3 linked regions of the Homo sapiens genome follow. The protein of the gene in region 1 interacts with the protein of each later gene in a pairwise test. Each region holds a gene or a part of one and is shown on either strand. Other genes may lie near its edges.

Region 1 (7,255 bases):
AAAAGGTAAGGGAGGAATAAGACAATAAGGGAGAGAGAGGAAAGAAATGAGAGATGAAAAGGGAGAAGGAAGAGGGGAGGGAAAGAGGGAAATAGGAAGAGTAGGAGAGAGAGAGAAAATGAAAGCAAATGAAGAGAAAACCTCCATTTTCCTAGTACAACTCCTTCCCTCAAGACACCCTCTATTCCAGTCTAGCCGCTCTTTCACCCATCTGCCTCCCACTCTTGTGTCCCCTGGTCTTCACTTACCCCCCAGAGCTTCATCTGTGCTTGGAACACACGGTTACCATCAAAGACAATGTGGACATGAAGCTGAGAGAAAAGAATTACAGGGGTAGTAACAAACCCAGAAGGTCAGAATAGGTCATTACGACAGATAACCAGGTCAGAGGTATGATCCACAGGTTGGCCAGACAGCCCTGACCTAATAACTCTCCTTTCCTCTAAGGGTACTATGGAGCCTACAGGTTAACAGCAAATGGCAACTCTGCCTGTGAGATTGTAGTATCACCCAATTGACTATCCTCCCATCCAACATCAGATCATTGCTCACCTCAGTTTGACTGGCCTTCACCCAGTTAAACGCAGGAAGTGGAATCTGGCCATATACAGTCACCACTACTAAGGAATCTGTCTGGTGCCAATCATGGCGGCAAGATGCTGGGAGCTAAAGAGAAGATGTGAAATGCAGGTGGTAAGAATAAATTCTTAACTGAAGGGGAGTTCTCATGATGCACGTGGAGAAGAGACAGAGAGTCTCAAAAAGATTAACACAACCTCATATTGCAAAACCTCTGGGCTGTTGAGGGATAAGGAGCAGAATCTTATTTGGTCTATACTAAAGGGAGAAGACAGGGAGCTTGGCTATGTGGTACAGAGAGGGAGGAGAATTTACCTCTGAGATTGGGTTCTAATCAAGAGTTCAGGAAAGCTGGGGCTTACCTGCTTCCCCCAGTCATGTCTACCGACTCTGCACCCTGGTTGTGCCAAGAATGCCCCAAAATCCAGGGTCTGGATGCCACAACAGCTCCAAGACTTCATCCTGAAGTAGGAAGATAATTCAACTGAATTCTCTCACCCCCAATATTATCTTATGACCAAATATTAGGAGAAACCTGTCTCATAGCCTCATAGCCCACCCAGTCCCCTCCCTCACCCCTCATGGAATCGGGGTGCTCCTGGGTGGTAGGTACATGGAGTAGCATCACTCTCAGGGCCTTGGTAAACCTAAGAAGGATAAAGTAGAACCAGGTCATTCTAAGGTATATCCTACTCAGCCTATCTATACCCAGTCATCCCTCAGCCATATGCTTGAGCCCCTCAAAACTCTCACTCACAGCATCACATCCTGGGTTCTGGCAGCTGGAACCAGTCCGGATCAGACTGTCAAGTCCTGGGCAAGGGAAACAGAGTCAGGAACTTATCCATCCCCCCACTCAATTGCCACTTCCACTAAATTCCAGTCTATGAAGTTGATCCTACTAAAGACCCACCTACCTGCCCCAGGTTCCTGGTCTAATTCCTTCTGTTCCAATGCCATTTCCAGGGCTTGGGATATATTTAGCGGCAGCAGCTTCAGAGGCAACTCTGACCTAGGGGTTAAGGGTGGTGATTTAGTTCTGACCCATTAGCTATGATTGCTAGCTCCAACACTCCCACCGATGGTAATGGAATTAAAGAAGCCTGGTGAAAGTGAGGCAGAGTTGGAGAGGTTGGGTAGCAACCCCATTGCCAATTTTCATCTCTGTGGACATCCCAAATACCTGAACCCTAGAGAAATCCCCAGCACTTCTCTTACCCATCTACTCAGTTGCTCTAAACCTAACCACTTTTCTCTGCAGAACTGAGTCATATCCTCTTCCTCTTTATCTAATCGTGGACCTAATATGACTTCCTTCTGTTGCTCTTATTATTCCCACAAAATTTGGGAAGTCTCCTGGCTGCCAATAATACAATACATCCTTTTCTTGATATGAGATTTATCTTAAAGTTCTTTTCTAGAAAGAGAAGTCATTCTCAACAATCCCTTTTGTGTTATACACTAAGGATGTATTTGTGAGGGGCTATCTACTCTGTTGATTCAGGTATCTATCCCATCATCCCACACCACCTTAGAGGAAAGGGCGTTATTTCCAGACACAAATTTCCCCTAAGGCACAGGATATACACCATCCAAACCCTGACATCTGGCCCTCCTCACATCCCTGGTCCCTAGTTCCCAGTCCTCAATGACCCATTAATCACTCCTAGGAAGCTACATGAAAATAAGAAAAGTCCAGGGGCCTCCTCCTCTTTACTTGGGCCTCTCCCGGCGCAAGGTCTCTGCTGACTTTGGAATCACATTCAGAGGTTTTTGCTCCTGAAGTGAACTGCTTGTAGCAGGGCCTTCAGGTTGAGGGGCCTCAGGAAGCTTCTCAGCACAGTGTGGTCCCATAGTACAGCCCTAGTATAGATAAGGAGATAGGATTAGGGATAGAATCCTTCTATTGGGGGCAGAATCCAAGTACATAAATAATTTACCTTGATGTTTAAGAACTCAGAGAAATCTACAGTTCGCTTTCGGCAGCAGGACCAACCCTGATAACAAGAGACCCAGATCAGCTTAGCTTCCTGGGTATTATCTCTTCTGGGAAATGCTCTTGCTAACCCCCCTCACCTACTCCTCACCTTAAGTGCATCATGGAAGATTGGGACCCCAGGGTGATGGCAACAGGAATCTGTGGACATCAGTAGAAGTTATCAAGGAAGGGAAGATAACTATACCAAGTATCATTTTTCACCTCTTCCCCGGGTTTCTATTTATGGTTTCTTCCCATATAATGTGAAGAAAAAAAAAAAAGCCAGCAAAGGCTGTAAGATCACTCAGACCAATTAAACTAGGGCAGGTAGTTTCTTTCCCCGCTCCTCAAACACACTGCCCCCCAGCTGACCAGTCCCCAACACCCACACAGAGCCCCTGGCCAGGTCAGGATTCTTTACTCACCAGGAAGGTTGGTATTAGGGTCAAAGTGCTGCCCACAGCCTTTGTTACGACAGAGTAGAGACATGGAAGCGTTGGTTGAATGATTACTGAAAGGGTATTTCAAGGAGTCTGGCTGCCGAATGGGGAACACCTCTTAGTCTGGAGGCTTTTAGCTGCCTGGAAGGGCCAGCTGTTTCTATCTTTAGTTCAGGAGGCGTACACCTCCTAACATGGGCAAGGGAACTTCAATTCGTCTTTCCAGCCAATAGGAAAGAGCTCGGGGGCATTTTAGCTCTGAGGCTCAGGAAAAAAGGATCAGGCAGAGTAGGGCTTTGAACTTGGGTGAGGTCAGCTCACCACTACTGAGACAGTTTTAGATTCACCACAGCAATTCCAAGCCTTGGACACAGCAGCAGCTGCTAAGAAACAAATACCAATTTTGAGACCCCCCCCGCGCCCCCAGCTCGATGAGGATTAAGCCCATTTTCTTCCTCTTTCAGAGGGGCAGCTTTCCTCCATCATTACTTCCATGTAGTATCAATAGCGCTAATCCTTGCCAACCCCTCCAGCCATTTGATGCACCTCATCCCCACCTCCTCCCCATGTTTGTCTAGATCAATACTGTAATCCAAAGGTCATAAAGGATTACCTTTATAGAGTCTACTGCTCATCTCCTAAGATAACTCCCCTCCCTCCTTTCCCCTTCAAAAACACCACAGAAAATTAAAAGGCTTAAAATGTATTTTAATAGGTTGATGCTGCATTACTGCTCCATTTTTCAGAAAAACTCCAAATATATGAGACAAATCAAACACAGTACACCAATGAAAAAAAAAATGCACAGCATGACTACCTAAGATAGGCGAGTCTAAGAGCTACTGTCAGACCTTCAGTATACAGTAACCCTGTTCCCAAGATTGTACTAGGCCTATCAAGAAAAGCTGTGAACAGCAACATCATAGACACAAAAGGGTCATTCCTGGGTGTCCTCACCCAAGAAAAAGATGGAGGCAAGTTAACACAAGATTTTTTTTTAAAGATACACTAAAATGAAAATCTCTAAGAGAAAATGTCTTCTTTAGGACATGAAGGGGTAATATATGGGGTATAACAGAACCGTATGTACGCTGCCTGTGACCTTTGTGGACGTTTGCCTGAATTCTCACCTGGGAGTGAATGGAGCAATGGGGCTAAGGTCATTGGGGGATGTTTGGTTTTTGTGGTGTATGTGGCAGTTTCTCTGGGGCTGGGGGAGTGTAAGGATAAGAAGCAAGTGAGGTTGGGCACGGTGGCTCACCCCTGTAATCCCAGCATTTTGGGAGGCCGAGGTGGGTAGATCACGAGGTCAGGAGTTCAAGATCAACCTGGACAAGCTTGAACCCGGGAGGCAGAGATTGCAGTGAGCCGAGATCATGCCACTACACTCCAGCCTGGGCGACAGAGTAAGACTCCGTCTCGGGGGCGGGGCAAGCAAATGAAACAAGATGGACAAAAAAAAAAAAAACCGGAATGATCAAGATTAATGGGCTCTAACTGGATCCACTTTGCCATGGTTTCCCCAGGCCCTCAACAGTCACATTAGAGACTTCAGGAATGCACCACACAGAACTGATTAAACAATATACCACACAGAATTGACTTGTTTAATACCACCCCTCCCTTGCCCTCTGCCTCCAGCATACTCCCTAGAGTAGTACAGGCAGGGTAGATCTAACTATTGGAAGGAATCCCTAACACTTTTCCAGGGTAGAATTCTGGCTAGTCCAAAAAGGGTCCTTCTTTTAAGGGTTTTGAGAAACTAGACACTGCAACTTATTAGTATCGGCGACGTTTGTTTGGGGCAAATTCAGCTCCAGGAGCTGCACGGTTGAATGCAGGAGGAGTTCCACCAATTGCCCCAATTCCTTCCATTGTAGCAGCCTGACCAAAGCGTTCAGTTGTTGGTGGGGTCTTAAAGAGAAAAAGAGAGCAACACTGTAACAGAGCCATTGTTGGAAGCTTCCCACCCATCTGTAGTCCCTCCACTGGAGGCTATTTCCATTCAACTATTCAAGGCTCCTGATGGTAGGTAGGAGTGGGTGACTAAGTCTGTTTAGAACTCTAGTGGATAACCCCAAAAGTGGTGGCGCATGCCTGTAATCCCAGCTACTCAGGAGGCTGAGGCAGGAGAATCGCTTGAACCTGGGAGGCGGAGGTTGCAGGGAGCCAAGATTGCACCACTGCACTCCAGCCTGGGCGACAAGAGCAAAACTCTGTCTCAAAAAGAAAAAGAAAAAAAGAAAAACAAAAACAGAAACAACCAAACTATCCAGTTTTGGCATTTTAACACCATAACCAAAACAACCCCAGGATTGCATGAGCCATGAAGTATTTGGATTCACAACTATTTTATGTGATAATGCCTAGCCTTCATTGACTTCCCTCCAACAAACATAGTCAATCAGACTGGCCAGTCAGACGGTGGCATTTACTTAACTCCTAGATTAAGTATAGAGACTGAGTTTGCTCAAGATTCAAAAATAAAGACCTTGAGGTTACATTTAATGGATACCAGCAGTCCTAAAGATTGCTATCTGGGCCGGGCTTGGTGGCTCACGCCAGTAATCCCAGCACTTTGGGAAACCGAGGCGGGCAGATTATCTGAGGTCAGGAGTTCAAGAACAGCCTGACCAACGTGGTCAAACTCAGTCTCTAATAAAAATACAAAATTGGGAGGCCGAGGCTGGTGGATCACCTGAGGTCAGGAGTTCGAGACCAGCCTGGCCAACATGGTGTAACCCCATCTCTACTAAAAATACAAAAATTAGCCGGGCATGGTGGCAAGCACCTGTAGTCCCAGCTACTCGGGAGGCTGAGGCAGGAGACTCGCTTGAACCCGGGAGGTGGAGGTTGCAGTGAGCCAAGACCATGCCATTGCACTCTAGCCTGGGCAACAAGAGGGAAACTCTGTCTCCAAAAAAAAAAAGACTGCTATCTATAGCAAACTGAGGTAGGCCCCCAGGGGCTGTGAAAGCAATGCCTGTTCTCCTCCTACCACCATTTAGAATTACTGTTAAGGCACTGCAGTTTTATTACCAATCCCAAAGTTCCATCCGGCATCATAGTGGCAGGTCCTGGAGGAGCTGGGGTACCAGCTGGCACAGGAGCAGGGGGCATGGCACCTCTGTTGTTTATGCCCATAGCACCTAAGGCAGAGTAGTGTGATCAGCACAAGGGATAAAGATTGTTAGTCTCTTTCTATGCCAAAGGAAACAATTCAACAAGACCTCTGGGCTAAGTAAGACATATATGTCACCCCCTTAAAGTAGGCAGCAGAAGCTACATAGTTCACCCAAGACCAAACAAAAAAGGAAATCAGAGCCATTAACCTCCTAAGTCCTTACCTCCCATAGCCATCTGACCCATCCGAATCTCCTGCTCTCTCTGAAAAACAAAAAATACTCAAGACAGTCCAAGACAGCAGTGCATTCTACCACAATCCATCAAGGACCACACACTAAGGGAAGTAGATAGAGTGATAACACGTCCAAACAGCACTGAGAAAGCTGAGGAGCACAACCCTTGCTAGTTGTGCAACAAATTCAAGGTCACAGAGCTACTAGGACGTAAGCCAGAGCCTCCTATTAGCAACAGAGAGGTGAAAGGGGGAAGAGATTGCTTCTGAAGCTCCAACTTGTACAATTGCAAGGACAGCAGAGGACTAGCCAAGGTTGCATATCTCTTCCTATAGTCACTGAGTCTAAACAGAATACAGCAGACCCAGTTTTTCATCCTATATTGCTTGTGAGGCAAGATCTCCTCTTCAAACCTTACCTCTCCTTCTTATGAATTCTTTTTTCTAAAGGGTTATTTCACAACACGGGAAAATTGGTCATAACCGGTAACCTAGCAGACAATTCATGGTGAGTTTATCAGGACTGGTCTGGTACATCACGGGCACATGGGAGATATACCGCATCAGGGAAGGTTCCCTTGAATCCTTCCTGCTGTCGCCGCATCATTTCTTCTTGCTGCCGCCGCATCTCTTCTTCACGGCGCCTGCGCTCTTCCTCCTGCCTACAGAGAGTCACCAATGTATTTAAGACAGAGGCATTTCAGAACTTGAGCAGATTAACAGGAGACTCAACCAAGGAGACTGGCCTACTGAAAACTATCAGTTCACCAGGAAACTCACTGTTAAGTGTGCCCAGCCCTGAGGCAACCCCCAAAGAAACCTCATGAGACCAGCATTCAGCTGCTTTCTTTTTAGCAGGTAACTTCTAGGACCATGGGCAGCTAAAACATCTCCAATCCA
Region 2 (7,103 bases), on another chromosome or scaffold:
GGCAGGCCAAGTCTCAGAGGTCAGGGAAGTGGGAGTGGCCAGAGGAAAGAGGGCCACAGCCATAGGGTAGGACCGAAGTGCTCCTGCCCAAGCCAAGGATGGCAGCCTACCTTCCTTGGACATGCCCACTTCGAAGCACTTCTGTAGCCGGCAGTACTGGCAGCGATTCCTGGTCACCTTGTTGATGATACAGTTTTTGTCGCGGTGACACGTGTACACCATGTTCTTCTGGATGCTTCGGCGAAAGAAGCCCTGGAGTTGAGGGAAAGAGAGAGGGCCTCTGAAGCACAATGCTGGGAGTACCAGCCTCTCACTGGCCTTGCAGGTTGCCCCAAGCCTGACCTAATCTATTAACCACCTATGTGCAAAGCAGTGCTGCTCAGACACAGCATCTGTGTGCCTGGTCTCTCATCTTACTAGGGTAACTGGATCCCCCGTCTGCCCACTCCCACCACGTACACACCTTGCAGCCTTCACAAGAGCTGACCCCATAGTGGTAGCCAGAGGACTTGTCATTGCACACGAAGCATGGCTTGTAGACCCGAGGAGGCGGAGGGGGCGAGGGCGAGCTGGGCACCATCTCCTCTGAGCTGGTGCTCTGTGTCTCCACCGCTGGGAGGGAAGCAGTGATGTGAGGGTCAGGGGAGAAGGACCCCACAGACCTCCAGGCTTCCTCATCACACACACCCCATGTGCATTTGTTCCTTGGCCCACTGGTGACAGCCATCACTACCACAGTGCACTAGTTCCAGCAGTAAGCACTGTCAGAATCCTCTTAATGACCACTATTACCACAGCTTGTTGTGACCCTAGTTCACCCTCTACCCTCCACAGTCTAACCAACTTGTTCACAAGAATGCCAGCCCTCATCCTATATGACATGTTTAATCCTCCAAATTCCAGACCAAGGCCATTCCGGAAATTGACTTCTCTGGGCCTGTTTCCCTAACTATCCAGGAGGTGGGTAGAAGAGTTAAAGCCCTGCAGCTCTGAGCTCTCTAGTCACTCTCTGTCTCTTTGGTATATCTTTGTCAGGTAGTCTACTTCCCACTGTCCTCCCTGTGGGGCAATAACTCTGGGGGCAGGTAGGCAATGACAGGCTTCCTGTAGCTGCTACTGGCCAAATGACCTGCTGGGATGCTTAGCAGGTAAACCAGGACCTCATTTCCTTTCCAGTAGTACAGGGGGGATAACTCCTCAGGCTTATCTCTCTCACACTACCCCTGAATAACCATCAGAGACAGTGGAGCAAATGGGGCAAAGGTCTCAGGGGAGTGAGTGAGAGGATGCACCACAGCCTTGGTTCACGCCTGAAGAAACTGAGGCCACGAGAGGGGAAGTGACCAGCTCAGTGCCACACCACCAGCAGATCCAAGTGGCTGTGAGTCAGAGAAGCTGGGGAAGCAGAGGCTGAGGTGTTTGCTCAGTTTCTCAGGTCTGGAAGCCGTTGGAGGTGTAGCAAACTGGAGAAGTCAGGTGACAGTAGGTAAACAGGACTGATGGGGGAGGGAACCTGTTTCTGGACCCTCTCTGAGCTTATGTCTTCACTCTGAAAATACCCAATTGCAGCTCAAAAGGGGTCTCAGCCCCACAGTATGGGGAGGACATGCTCTGCTCTGTTCAAAAGGCTGCTGGGTAAGTGTGTGTGTGTGTGTGTGTGCGCGCGCGCGCGCGCGCGCGTGTGGTTGGTCTTCAGAGGCTCGGAAAATTTGTAAATTATTCAACCTGTAGGACCTGTTGCCCAAACCTGGAGGGCCCAAGTTAATGCAAAAAAATTCCTAAGACCCTCCCTAAGGTGTGTCCCACGCACCCACCTCATGAACACCTTCTCCCTTCTAACCCTCTGCAGCCCACCTGGTCAGAAGCCCGCCCCAACGCAGCCAGAAGGGCGGAAGGAATGCCCAGGATGCCAGGGTTCCACGCTAGCTCCACCCACCCCACAGGAGGGAAGCCCTACCCACCCCCAACACACATACAATCAATTAGCATAAGAATCCTGCCAGAGTGAGATTACCCAAAGAAAAAGGAGAGAGGAGAGGGGGGAAAGAAGGGTGCCTGGAGTCTATTCAAGACTAGGGATGGGGGCTCCAGGAGGGGCTGGTGCTGAGAGATGTGAGGAGGGCTGGAACGCCTTTCCCAACCTCTCCTCACTCCTCAGACCCACCACTGTGTCCTCCAAGGGCACGTGTTCTGCCCAAGGCCTGTGCGTGGGGTGGTGCTCACTCTGGCACTGACGCCCTCCCTGCCCGCAGAGCGCTGCCTCATTTCCTCTCTTGCGCAAGGGCCTGGGTGCGGTCAGACTGGCATGGGGCAGTGCCAGCCAATTATAAGACTGGGGGCCTTAGGGAGACAGGCCCGGGGGCAACTTTTCCTGTCTAAGTGATACTGTCACATCCCCACCCCCTGAACCCTAAAGTGCAGCCTAGTGGCTCCGAGGTCAATCTGTGAGGTCAAGGCCCCAGAAAGCTAACTGGGTCTACTCCAATCAGATCCCCTCCCCAGACTCGGGCTTAGACCCCACCATTGGGATGCAGCTCCTGGGTTAGGCAGGGGCCCCTGCTGGGGAGGATGGGGGTGGGCTCTGGGGTTTTCTCCTTTTAAAGCCCAAATTGCTGAAATTGAGGAAATTCCTGACCAGGCTGCGCGGAGCTTCAAACAAACTCTTTATAACCGGCTGTAAACGCTCCCAGCTGCGAGGCTCAGAGCTGAGCAGCCTGGACTCACAATCTAGCACACACCTCCTTGGAGACACACACACTCACAGGTTAACAACACATAAGGCACCAAAGCAGGCATATTACAATGGGATCCTAGAACCCTCACTGGATTCTGGCACAGACACACAGCCAGAATAGAGACACACTCACTCCAGCTACACCGTGGAGGTAGATGTACCAGTCACAAGGCTGACACACAACAGCCAGCACTTGGCCACACAAGGGAACAGCCCTACCACCAGACAAACACCCCAGCCTGCCAACGCAGCACCAGGACACCAAAGCCTCCAAACAGGCACACACACACACACATCCAGCCCACCTCCACCCCCCAAGCACCCTTCCCTCTGAAAGTGTGTGCGGGCAGGCCTGAAGCTGGCTTTGTGTGTCCACCAGGATCCCAGAGGCCAAAATTATTGGTCCCAATTAAAACTCAAAAACCTAGGGCCAGTCAAGCCCAAAGGGCTTCTTCCATAGGCCTGAAAAAAGACAGGGTCTCTGCCCAGCCCCCAGAAGCCCTTCCTGAAAGATTCTTTCCATCTCAGCACCCCCACAACATATAACATACCCCAACTCCCCATCCTATTGGGCAATGAGAGGAAAGTTAAGAATTCACAGGGATTTGGTGCAAAGCAATAGTTCCATGCTTTCTCGGTTCTTTAAATGACACACTTTTAAATTCTTCCCCCACCCCACCCAAAAGTAAAGTCAAGTCCGGTCTCCTGGTTTGCCATCTCCCTCTTCCAGCTTCCCAGTTGTTAAATTTGAGCAGCTCTGCTCTGGAACCAAAAAAAAAAATCCGAACTTGTAAACAGCACTGCTTGGTGCCAAGGAGCGAGGCGCGTTGGCGGGGGCTTGGTGACCTGGCGTGCGCACTCCCCCAGCGCCCGCCGCCCCGCCCGCTGCCCGCCCCTTCCCACCCTTCCCAGCGTGCCCCCAAGCCCCTCATCCCCGGGCCGTCCGCACCCAGGCAGCGAGCACATCCCAGCCCAGGGTAAATTTGGGGGGTGTTCCAGGCTGCGCTCCTGGCCCCTCCCCACACCCCACCCCCGCCAGGCACTGCGGCCCAAGCTTCAAAGCCGCCTCTCATCTGGACTTCATTTTTACTGCCTCTCAGTCCCCAGCTTTTTATTACTGCTCTGGAAAGGGGTTCCAGGGCCCCAGGCCTGGCATCTCCCATTTCACGGAGGGGGAAGATAGATATTTGGGGACCCAGTAATGGTGCTCGCCCTGCCGCTGTCAACTTCAGGCCACCCCCCACCACACACACAGACTTTGCTTTAAACTTTTCGCTTCCTGCTGAAGTTGTTGTGTGTTGGAGCCATAGGAAAAAGTAATCTCTGCATATAACCGCATACACGTTTCCAAACATTTCTTTTTTTATATGGGGGTGGCGTACAAAACTCAGCCTTCTCCCTCTTGTGTGCACAACCTTTTCCACCCGGCATGAGAACACACAGGATGCACTCTCGAACACAGCACTTTCCAAAACCGCCCCCGCAGCCACGCAGGGGCACACGCCCTCCCGGCCTCACGCCACAAACATCCCCTCACAGGCCATGTGGACCTGGCAGCTGTCGCAGGCGACACTGGTGGAGAGACCCTTGCTCCCACACCCACACCACCTAGGCAAGGCGCTGCACACTCCAGGGATTCACACGCTCTGCAAACGATATTTTTAACACTGCCAGCTTCCCACATGGGCTTTACAAACGCCACCCACGGTCCTGAGTGTCATATCCTTCCAGGGCCACGGACGTGAAGGCGCAAACTACCCACACACCTCGGTCTCTCCCTATCCCCAGGAACTCTGGAGTGGCATCAACCACAGGTTCGAGCTAAACACCCACCATAAAAACCACACACACTCCAAACACTACTGCACACACGCAAAGGAGACGCTGAGGCCCCCACGTTTAAAGGGCCAGTACCTTACATAGAAAGGGCCAGAAGCTCCTCCTTGCACCTCAGTTCCACTCTTTACACACGGAAAGAGTAAATCCCACCCTCTCCTGCACCCTACACCCCAGCCCCGGACTCCGGTACCTACATTGCAGGCTGGCGGGTTGCGGCCAGGCAAAAGATTCAAGTCCGGCGAAACAGGAGCCGCCGGTGGCTCTGCGCAGCAAGCCGGCCCCGGGCCCGGCCGCCCCGTACAGCCGTCGCGGACCCGGGGCAAACGTTTCCATACAGTCGTACATCGCGACCCGGCTTGAAGGGAAACTGGGTGCTGGAAACACCAAGGACCCGCAGCCGATTCCCCCTCCTCCCCCGGCGGCGCCCCGCTCCAGCAGGGGGGGAGGGGGAGGGCTAGCATAGGGCGCTGGGCTGCATGCGGGTAAGGGGTGGGCGGGGAAGAGGGGGGATCCCCAGCAGGGGAAAGGGACTGGGCGGGGCGCGAAGCTGGGGCTGCCGCTTTAGCCTCCGTCCAGCTCTTATCTGGGTGCTTCGGCAGCTAGCACTGGGGAGACCTTTTTTAAAAGCGAAGCCTGGAGGGGTGGGGGGTGGGGCTTGGAGAGCGAAGGGGGCCGGGCACCGAGATGAGCAAAGCTGAGAGTGGAGCGCACACATACACATACGTACACTCGCTCCGCGGCGCGCGCGCTTGCTTAGACACACATCCGTGCATGCATTTATCTTATCAGGCACCAAGAATTTGCAAATATGCAAGAGTGAACATACATGTGAGCACGCATATAAAATCATAGGTGCACACACGTTTGTGCAAACACACCTTGCTCGGGAGAATGCTTGCAGGCATACTCTCCACAGCTCATAGGCTTTGCATGCATTTGCACTGAGGCGCGTGCCCAGGTCGGGGTTGGAAGAAGGAGAGGAGGAACCAAGCATAAGCATTTCCTTTCAGAGTTTTCCCTCTCCCCAAACTCTCCCTTTTTCACACTAGTCAATACAGGGGTGTTAAGGATGACTGGGGAGAGGGGAACGTGGAGGTCCCCGCGCGCAGCTGCTCTCCTGAGGCTCGGGACCTGCACTACCTCCACCCCTCTCATTCCCAGGCCTGGCTCCGCCCTCGCCCTCCGCGCGCCCGCTTCAGGGCCGAAAAGTGCATTCCTGCGGCTCGGCGCGCGCTGCCTCCTCCTTCCTTCCCGTCTCCCCACCCGCGGTCCTAGGGCCGGAGCGCGCTCCCGCCGTGAACTCTCTGGGAACCCCCCTCGGGGCGGGTGGCCGAGCGCGCTCACCTCCTCCTGACCCGGCCCCGCCCCACCCCGCCCAGGCCGTCTTCAGCGCTGCCGCGGAGTCCCCCCGCCCCCTCCAGCGCAGCCAGAGTCTACCCCTCCTAGCCCGAGCAGTCCGCCCTCCGCCGCGGCCCGGGCCGCCTCCCTCCGAGTCCCCGAAGCCTTATCCCGCAACTGACGCCCCCTAAGCGCCTCGACCGTCTCTCTCGATGCTCCTTCTTCGAACATAACTTCACTTTTAGAGCACAAAACTACCCCATAAGCTGTGCCTGCCGTGCCAACTGCGCCTCGATGAATCTGCCCCTGATGGCCAACTCCCCTCCTCCAGTTTCTCACTGCCAAGGGCTCCCTCGGCAATAGGGGCGCTTCTGGTCACTGACTGTTCTCAGGGTCTTTAAATACCCTCTAGCCTAGGCATAACTGCCCTCCCTTCGGTTAGTGCCCCTCAGCTCTCCAAGGCCGCAACACTGTTCCCTGGGTTGCCCCTTCCGGCACTGAGCGCCCTCGCCCGGCGGAGAAGGGGGTGAGGTGGGCGGGGGGCTGGCCACGTCAGAAGTTTGCCCTGGCCCGGCAGGGCCGAATGGGGGGACCCTGGCCCCGGACAGCGCCAGCAGCGGCGACTCCCGGAAATCCCCCCCTCCCCCGCGCCCCGCCCTCAGCCGCCGGGCCGCCCGGCCTGCCTGCCCAGCCGGCTCTGTCAGCGCCGCTCACACGGGCAGCGCCGCGGAGCGGGAGCGGCGCCCGGCCCGGCCCTTCCCCCGCCAGGCGGCTGTGGCTGGGCCAGGGCGGGGCGCGCTTTTCTAAGAATCTGTTGTACCGGGTGGGGGGCGCACTGGGGTGCTGCAGGAGTGGGGCGCCTGTTGGAAGAATAAAGGGCAGGAAGGGGTGCCAGAGTAGGCGAGGGATGGCGGGCGCGGGGGAGGGGCGGGGGGCTGCCGGGGCTGGGAAAAGGCCTGACTTGTGGATGGCGAGGAAACCTCGGGGTGGCAAGGCTGACTAGGGGGCTTGAAGCAGGGATGGAGAGGGAATGCACTGCTCTTTCCAACCCAGTGTAAACTCCCTTCTCCTCCCCCAACCCCAAATACCCATTTCTGAATCCAGTCACCCGAACCCCACAAAAAAAAGAAAGAAAGAGAGAGAAAGAAAAGAAAGAGAAAGAAAGAAGAAAGAAAAAGGAAGAAAGAGAAAG
Region 3 (7,292 bases), on another chromosome or scaffold:
GTTCCTGGACACCACCCAGAGCACCCTCTGGTTGTGGGCTTGGACCACGAGCCCTTAGCAGGGAAGGCTGGTCTCCCCCAGCCTAACCCCCAGCCCCTCCATGTCTATGCTCCCTCTGTGTTAGAATTGGCTGAAGTGTTTTTGTGCAGCTGACTTTTCTGACCCATGTTCACGTTGTTCACATCCCATGTAGAAAAATAAAGATGCCACGGAGGAGGTTGTAGGCTCAGCCTCTGATTTTTTTTTTCCTGTGATGGTGCTTTATGTAGCAGAGGGCAGGAGCGCTCAGCAGGACGCAGGCTGTGCCTCTGCGGACACTTAACACTAAGTGGTGAGCGGGTCTAGAGTGGAGCAAGGTGCCCTGAGAAGACAATAGTGGGGTGGGGGCACAATCAGTCAGGACGGCAACTTGGCCTGTGTCACCAAATCCCAAGACTGTTTTCCACTCCTCACCTCTGTGACTGCAGAAATTGGATACTCTGTTCACTCGATGGTTCTAAAAACTGCATTGAGATTATGTTTGTTTCGGGTGAATTCCTGGACAAGACCGAGGATGACTGCCATCTCCTGGCAAGACGCTCAGGTAGTTCTTTTGCTTTAAAAGGCAGATATTGAAAACTGGAATTTTTTTTTTTTGAGTCTCGCTCTGTCACCCAGACTGGAGTGCAGTGGTGCAATCTCGGCTCACTGCAACCTCCGCCTCCCGGGTTCAAGCTATTCTCCTGCCTCAGCCTCCCGAGTAGCTGGGATTACACGGCGCACACCACCATACCCAGCTAATTTTTGTATTTTTAGTAGTGAAGGGGTTTTACCATGTTGGGCAGGCTGGTCTTGAACTCCTGACCTCAGGTGATCTGCCCGCCTCAGCCTCCCACAGTGCTGGGATTACAGGTATGAGCCACCACGCCCGGCCCATTTTTTTTTTTTTTTTGACAACTTTTTTTTTTTTTTGAGACAGGGTCTTGTTCCATTGCCCAGACTGGAGTGCAGTGGCATGATCACAGCTCACTGCAGCCAGTAATCCTCTTGCCTCAGCCTCCCAAGTAGTTGAGACTACAGGTTGTACCACTATGCCCTGCTAGTTTTTTCATTTTTTGTAGAGAGACGGGTCTTTTTTTTTTTTGAGACGGAGTCTCGCTCTGTCGCCCAAGCTGGAGTGCAGTAGCACGGTCTCAGCTCATTGCAAGCTCCGCCTCCCAGGTTCACGCCATTCTCCTGCCTCAGACTCCTGTGTAGCTGGGAGTACAGGCACCTGCCACCATGCCCGGCTAATTTTTTATATATTTTTTTAGCAGAGACAGTGTCTCACTGTGTTAGTCAGGATGGTCTCGATCTCCTGACCTCGTGATCCGCCCGCCTCAGCCTCCCAAAGTGCTGGGATTACAGGCGTGAGCCACCGCGCCCAGCAAGGCGGGTCTTGCTGTGTTTCCCAGACTAGACTGGTCTTGAATTCCAGGGCTCAAGAGATCTCCCACCTCAGCCTCCCACAGTGCTGGGATTACAGGCGTGAGCCGCCACACCCAGCCTATTCAAAATTTTTTTTTCTTAGAGACAGGGTCTTTGTTGCCCAGGCTGGACTGCAGTGATACAATCATAGCTGACTGAAGCCTCAAATTCCCAGGCTAAGGTGATCTTCTCACCTCAGCCTTCCAAGTAGCTGGGTCCGCAGATGCATGCCAGTACACCCAGCTCATTTAAAAAAAAATTTTTTTCTTTTTTGAGAGTCTTGCTTTGTTGCCCAGGCTGGAGTGCAGTGGTGTGATCTCGGCTCACTGCAAGCTCCACCTCCCGGCTTCACGCCATTCTCCTGCCTCAGCCTCCCGAGTAGCTGGGACTACAGGTGCCCGCCACCACACCCGGCTAATTTTTTGTATTTTTAGTAGAGACGGGGTTTCACCGTGTTAGCCAGGATGGTCTTGATCTCCTGACCTCATGATCCGCCTGCTTTGGCCTCCCAAAGTGCTGGGATTACAGGCGTGAGTCACCGCGCCCGGCTCATTTTAAAATTTTTGTAGATCAGTGTACTGTTGTAAAAAAAAAAAAATAAGAAAAATAAAAAATAAATTTTTGTAGTGATAGGATCCCACTGAGGCCAGAGAATAGGGTCTGGAGACAAAGGAGCATTCACTTCAGCCTCTGACTGGTGGCAGGCCAAGTCTTTATTTACATAGGGTGTAACCAAATAGGAAACCTCTAAAGGGTACTTAAACCCCAGATTTTCTACACAGGGCACTTGCTTGAGCCTCATCCCGCTTTCTGGAATGTACTTTTGCTTCAATAAATCTGTGCTTTTGTTCCTTCTTTTGTTGCTTTGTGTGTTTTGTCCACCTCTTTGTTCAATATTCCAAGAACCTGGACGACTTGTAGTCAAGATCCTCCCCTGGTAATACTACTGTGTTGCCCAGGCTTATCTTCAACTCCTGGGCTTAAGAGATCCTCCTGCCTTGGCCTCCGAAAGTGTTGGGATTACAGGCGCAAGCCACTGTGCCCAGCATCACAGGGCCTTTTAAAGCTATCAGGATGAAGTGTGGTAAAAAAAGGAGTAAATGGGTTTCATCTCCAGATCCTTGCTGGGCTAGAGCCAAACCTCACAAAGGCTGGTGCTTCCTCCTTTGAGGTGTAAATCCTTGAAAACATTCATTTCTTTTGCATACCACGTTATGAATCCTAAAATAATGTTTTTGCAGCCTGCATTTTTAAAAAGTCAGGTTTATTGGGGTGTGATTTACATATAGTAAGATTCACCTTTCTTTGGTATACAGTTATGAGTTTTCACAAGTGTATATACAGTCTTAGAACCATTACAGATGAGATATACAGCATTTTCCTCACCCTCAAAAGTTCCTGACACTTGTGGTCCAGTCCTACTCCCTCATCCCAACTCCTGACTACCATTGAACTGATTTTTTTCCCTCCGAAGTTCTGCGTTTACCAGAATGGCGCCTTTTGTGTCTGGCTTCTTCCCATGATGCTTTTGAAATTCACCCATGTTGTGCTGCAGGAATTGAAAAAACTGTATTGTGTGGCTGGGCGCGGTGGCTCACACCTGTAATACTAACACTTTGGGAGGCCGAGGTGGGCAGATCACTTGATTTCAGGAGCTCGAAACCAGCCTGGCCAACATGGTGAAACCCCGTCTCTACTAAAAATACAAAAAAGGCCGGGCATGGTGGCTCACGCCTGTAATCCCAGCACTTTGGGAGGCCAAGGTGGGCGGATCACCTGAGGTTGGGAGTTCGAGACCAGCCTGACCAACATGGAGAAACCCCATCTCTATTAAAAATACAAAATTAGCCAGGCATGGTGGCACATGCCTGTAATCTCAGCTACTCGGGAGGCTAAGGCAGAAGAATCGCTTGAACCTGGGAGGCAGAGGTTGCAGTGAGCTGGGATCACGCCAGTGCACTCCAGCCTGGGCGACAAGAGCGAAACTCCGTCTAAAAAAAAAAAAAAAAAAAAAGCCGGGCGCCGGGCGTGGTGGTGGGCGTCTGTAACCCCAGCTACTGGGTGGGGCTGAGGCAGGAGAATCACTTGAACCTGGGAGGCTGAGATGCAGTGAGATGGCGCCACTGCACTTCAGCCTGGGCGACCCAGCAAGACTCTGTCTCAAAAACAAAACAAAACAAAACAAAAATAAAAACTGAAAAATCTCAAACATATAAAACCCAAATAGAATAAATCTCCATGTGCCTGGCACCAAATTTCAACAATTATCAACTCATGGTCAATCTTACTGTATTTACACCCCACCACCTTAATTATGTAGTAGCAAATCGGAGGTATTTCATCTATAAGCATTTTGGTGTGTTTCTCTAAAAATTAAAAACTTTAACTTTTTAAAAAACTTTATTGTTCTTGTTAATGACTGATAATACCATTATCCCACCTAAAATTTTTATTTTCCGGGAAGGCTTTTTTCTGGTGGCTCACACCTGTAATCGCAACACTTTGGGAGGCGGAGGCGGGAGGATCGCTTGAACCCCAGGAGTTCAAGACCAGTGTGGGCAATATAGCAAGTCCTCGTCTCAGGAAAAAAAGGAAAAAAGAAAGTTAGCTTTTTGGCAAAACTACTTCCTAGTAGATGGTGTGTACTTCCTATCACAGCGCATTAAGGGGCACATAATGCCTGGGACTCCGGGATTTCGAGCCCCTGACGCCAGCGGCGCCTCTGTGGCTCTGGGACCTGAGCGCACGCGCCTTAAAGCCACGCCTCCGCATCGGATCCTAGTAAGGGAGCGGGGTTATCATTTTAGCGTAGCGTTGCGCGTGCGCAGAGAGGCCGCCGTAGTTTGCGTTTTCACCTGGTCGCCCGGCGGCCATGGCGGCCGTTCTGAAGCCGGTGCTGCTGGGCCTTCGAGATGCGCCGGTGCACGGCAGCCCCACAGGGCCGGGTGCCTGGACTGCTAGCAAGCTGGGCGGCATTCCGGTGAGGGCGGGTGCCGGAGCTGGGGTCGATGGGTGCTGCTGAAGGGTGCGGAGGGAGTGGGCGAGGTCCTGGGGGGAGTCGGGGTCTGAGCGCCTCCTCTGTCCCCTCAGGATGCTCTGCCCACCGTGGCTGCGCCCAGGCCCGTGTGTCAGCGCTGCGGGCAGCCGCTCGCTCTGGTCGTGCAGGTGTATTGCCCGCTGGAAGGCTCCCCGTTTCACCGTCTGCTGCACGTGTTCGCGTGCGCCTGCCCCGGCTGTAGCACCGGCGGTGCGCGCAGGTAGGCGGGGAAGTCCCAGAGCTGCTCCAGGGGTGTCCTTTCCAGCGGGCTGGGGCGGGCCGGCGGGCTGGAGTCGGGGTGCAGCCCTCACGGCCCTTTGTCTTCACCCCGAAGCTGGAAGGTGTTCCGCTCCCAGTGCCTGCAGGTGCCAGAGAGAGAGGCGCAGGACGCTCAGGTAAAGGTTGTGATTGGCATGTTATTGTTTTTCTGTCATTTGAGGATATTTTCCAGAGAATAGTTTGGGGCAGACTTTAAAGCCGTGTTCTTTGAAGTACACTGGAGTGTTTTTTGCTTTTCTGAAGAACCATAAAATGCTATTTTCGTAAAGTTTTTTTTTTTTTTTTTTTTTGAGACGGAGTTTCGCTCTGTCGCCCAGGCTGGAGTGCAATGGCGCGATCTCGGCTCACCGCAACCTCCGCCTCCCAGGTTCAAGCGATTCTCCTGCCTCAGCCTCCCTAGTAGCTGGGATTACAGGCATATGCCACCACGCCCGGCTAATTTTGTATTTTTAATAGAGACGGGGTTTCGCCATGGTGGTCAGGCTGGTCTCGAACTGCCGACCTCAGGTGATCCACCCGCCTCGGCCTCCCAAAGTGCTGGGATTACAGGCATGAGCCACCGCGCCCGGCCTTTCTTAAGGTTTTGTGAGAGTTTTTTTTTTCTTCTATTTTACTTTATTTTTATTTTCTAACTCCTTTGTTAAAAGGAGATGGAGGCCCAGCATGGTGGCTCACGCCTGTGATCCCACCGTTTTTTGAGAGGCTGAAGTGGGAGGATTGCTTGAGCTCAGAAGTTGGAGACCAGGCTGGGCGCGGTGGCTTACGCCTGTAATCCCAGCACTTTGGGAGGCCGAGGCGGGCGGATCTCCTGAGGTCAGAAGTTCGAGACCAGCCTGGCCAACATGGCGAAACCCCGTCTCTATTAAAAACAAAAACAAAAAATTAGCCGGGCATGGTGGCAGACACCTGTAATCCCAGCTACAAGGGAGGTTGAGGCAGGAGAATCGCTTGAACCCGGGAGACAGAGATTGCAGTGAGCTGAGATCATGCCACTGCACTCCAGCGTGGGTGACAGACTCCGTAAAAACAAAACAAAACAAAACAAAAGAAAAAAAAAACGTTGGGAGAGCAGTCTGGGCAACATAGCAAAACATCGTCTCTATAAAAAGTAAACAAATTAGCCAGGCATGATGGCCACGCAACTGTAGTGCCAGCTACTCAGGAGGCTGAGGTAGGAGGATTGCTTGAGTCTAGGAGGTTGAGGCTGCAGTGACCTACACTTGTGCCACTGCACTCCGGCCTGGGCCACAAAGCCAGACCCTGTCCCCTGCCAAAAAAACAAAAGGGAGATGGAGACTTCCTCCTGGATTTCTTCAACTTTTTTTTTTAACTGTAAATTGACAGTTTATAATAATGTATAAATTTATGAGGTATAAAGTGATGGCTATGATTCATGAATATCATGTGGAATAATTAAATGAAGCTAGTTAATGCATTCATCACCTCAAATACTTAACATCTTGTGAGAACATTTGAAATTTCCTCTAGCAATTTGGAGATACACAATACTCTTATTTTTTTTTTTTTTTGAGACGGAGTCTTGCTCTGTTGCCCAGGCTGGAGTGCAGTGGCGCCGTCTCTGCTCACTGCAAGCTCCACCTCCTGGGTTCACACCATTCTGCCTCAGCCTCCAGAGTAGCTGGGACCACAGGCGCCCGCCACCACGGCCAGCTAATTTTTTCATTTTTTTAAATTTTTAGTAGAGACAGGGTTTCACCATGTTAGCCAGGATGGTATTGATCTCGTGACCTTGTCATCCACCCACCTCGGCCTCCCAAAGTGCTGGGATTACAGGCTTGAGCCCCTGTGCCCAGCCACAATACTCTATTATTAACTATATTCATGCTGTGCAGTAGAACTTAAAAAAAACCCACATTCCTCCTGAATAACTGAGGTTTTGTATTCTTTGACCGTCATCTCCTTATTCTTCCCGCTCCAGGTTTCTTTCTTCCTTTTTTTTTTTTTTTTTTTTTTTGAGACCGAGTTTCGCTCTTGTTGCCCATGCTGGAGTGCAATGGCACAATCTCAGCTCACTGCAACCTCCACCTCCCGGATGCAAGCGCTTATCCTGCCTGCCTCAGCCTCCCTAGTAGCTGGGATTACAGGCACTCGCCACCACGCCCAGCTAATTTTTATATTTTTAGTAGAGAAAGGGTTTCACCATGTTGGCCAGGCTGGTCTTGAACTCCTGACCTCAGGCAACCCACCCGCCTCGGCCTCCCAAAGTGCTGGGATTACAGGCGTGAGCCACCATGCCCGGCTCACTCCAGATTTTTTTTTTTCTTTGAGATGGAGTTTCGCTTTGTTGCCAGGCCGGAGTGCAGTAGCACAATCTTGGCTCACTGCAGCCTCCGCCTCCCAGGTTCGAGCAATTCTCCTGCCTCAGCCTCCTGAGTACCTGGGACTACAGGCACACACCACCATGCCCAGCTAATTTTTGTATTTTTAGTAGAGATGGGGTTTCACCGTGTAGCCAGGATGGTGTCGATCTCTTTACCTCGTGATCCACCCGCCTTGGCTTCCTGAGGTG

The links.
Region 2: the proteins of ITGB1BP2 (region 1) and RARG interact in a two-hybrid assay, tested with the Homo sapiens proteins (one study listed by BioGRID).
Region 3: the proteins of ITGB1BP2 (region 1) and PDCD2L interact in binary tests that used the Homo sapiens proteins (3 or more experiments, as listed by UniProt).

The regions. Positions count from the first base shown.
Region 1 is NC_000023.11:71,297,598-71,304,852, reverse strand, and holds the start of ITGB1BP2 (integrin beta-1-binding protein 2), read right to left. Parts: upstream 3,104-7,255; 5' UTR 3,047-3,103; coding exon 2,983-3,046; intron 2,717-2,982; coding exon 2,667-2,716; intron 2,577-2,666; coding exon 2,520-2,576; intron 2,443-2,519; coding exon 2,297-2,442; intron 1,592-2,296; coding exon 1,497-1,591; intron 1,393-1,496; coding exon 1,337-1,392; intron 1,227-1,336; coding exon 1,156-1,226; intron 1,042-1,155; coding exon 942-1,041; intron 667-941; coding exon 553-666; intron 312-552; coding exon 249-311; intron 1-248. Other genes in the region: NONO (non-POU domain-containing octamer-binding protein), read right to left, coding at 4,777-4,911, 6,037-6,146, 6,345-6,384, 6,915-7,017. UniProt on the Homo sapiens protein: May play a role during maturation and/or organization of muscles cells.
Region 2 is NC_000012.12:53,215,183-53,222,285, forward strand, and holds part of RARG (retinoic acid receptor gamma), read right to left. Parts: intron 5,181-7,103; exon of another isoform or gene 5,035-5,180; coding exon of another isoform or gene 4,768-5,034; intron 613-4,767; coding exon 464-612; intron 253-463; coding exon 111-252; intron 1-110.
Region 3 is NC_000019.10:34,400,113-34,407,404, forward strand, and holds the start of PDCD2L (programmed cell death protein 2-like), read left to right. Parts: upstream 1-4,286; 5' UTR 4,287-4,318; coding exon 4,319-4,426; intron 4,427-4,536; coding exon 4,537-4,703; intron 4,704-4,817; coding exon 4,818-4,878; intron 4,879-7,292. UniProt on the Homo sapiens protein: Over-expression suppresses AP1, CREB, NFAT, and NF-kB transcriptional activation, and delays cell cycle progression at S phase.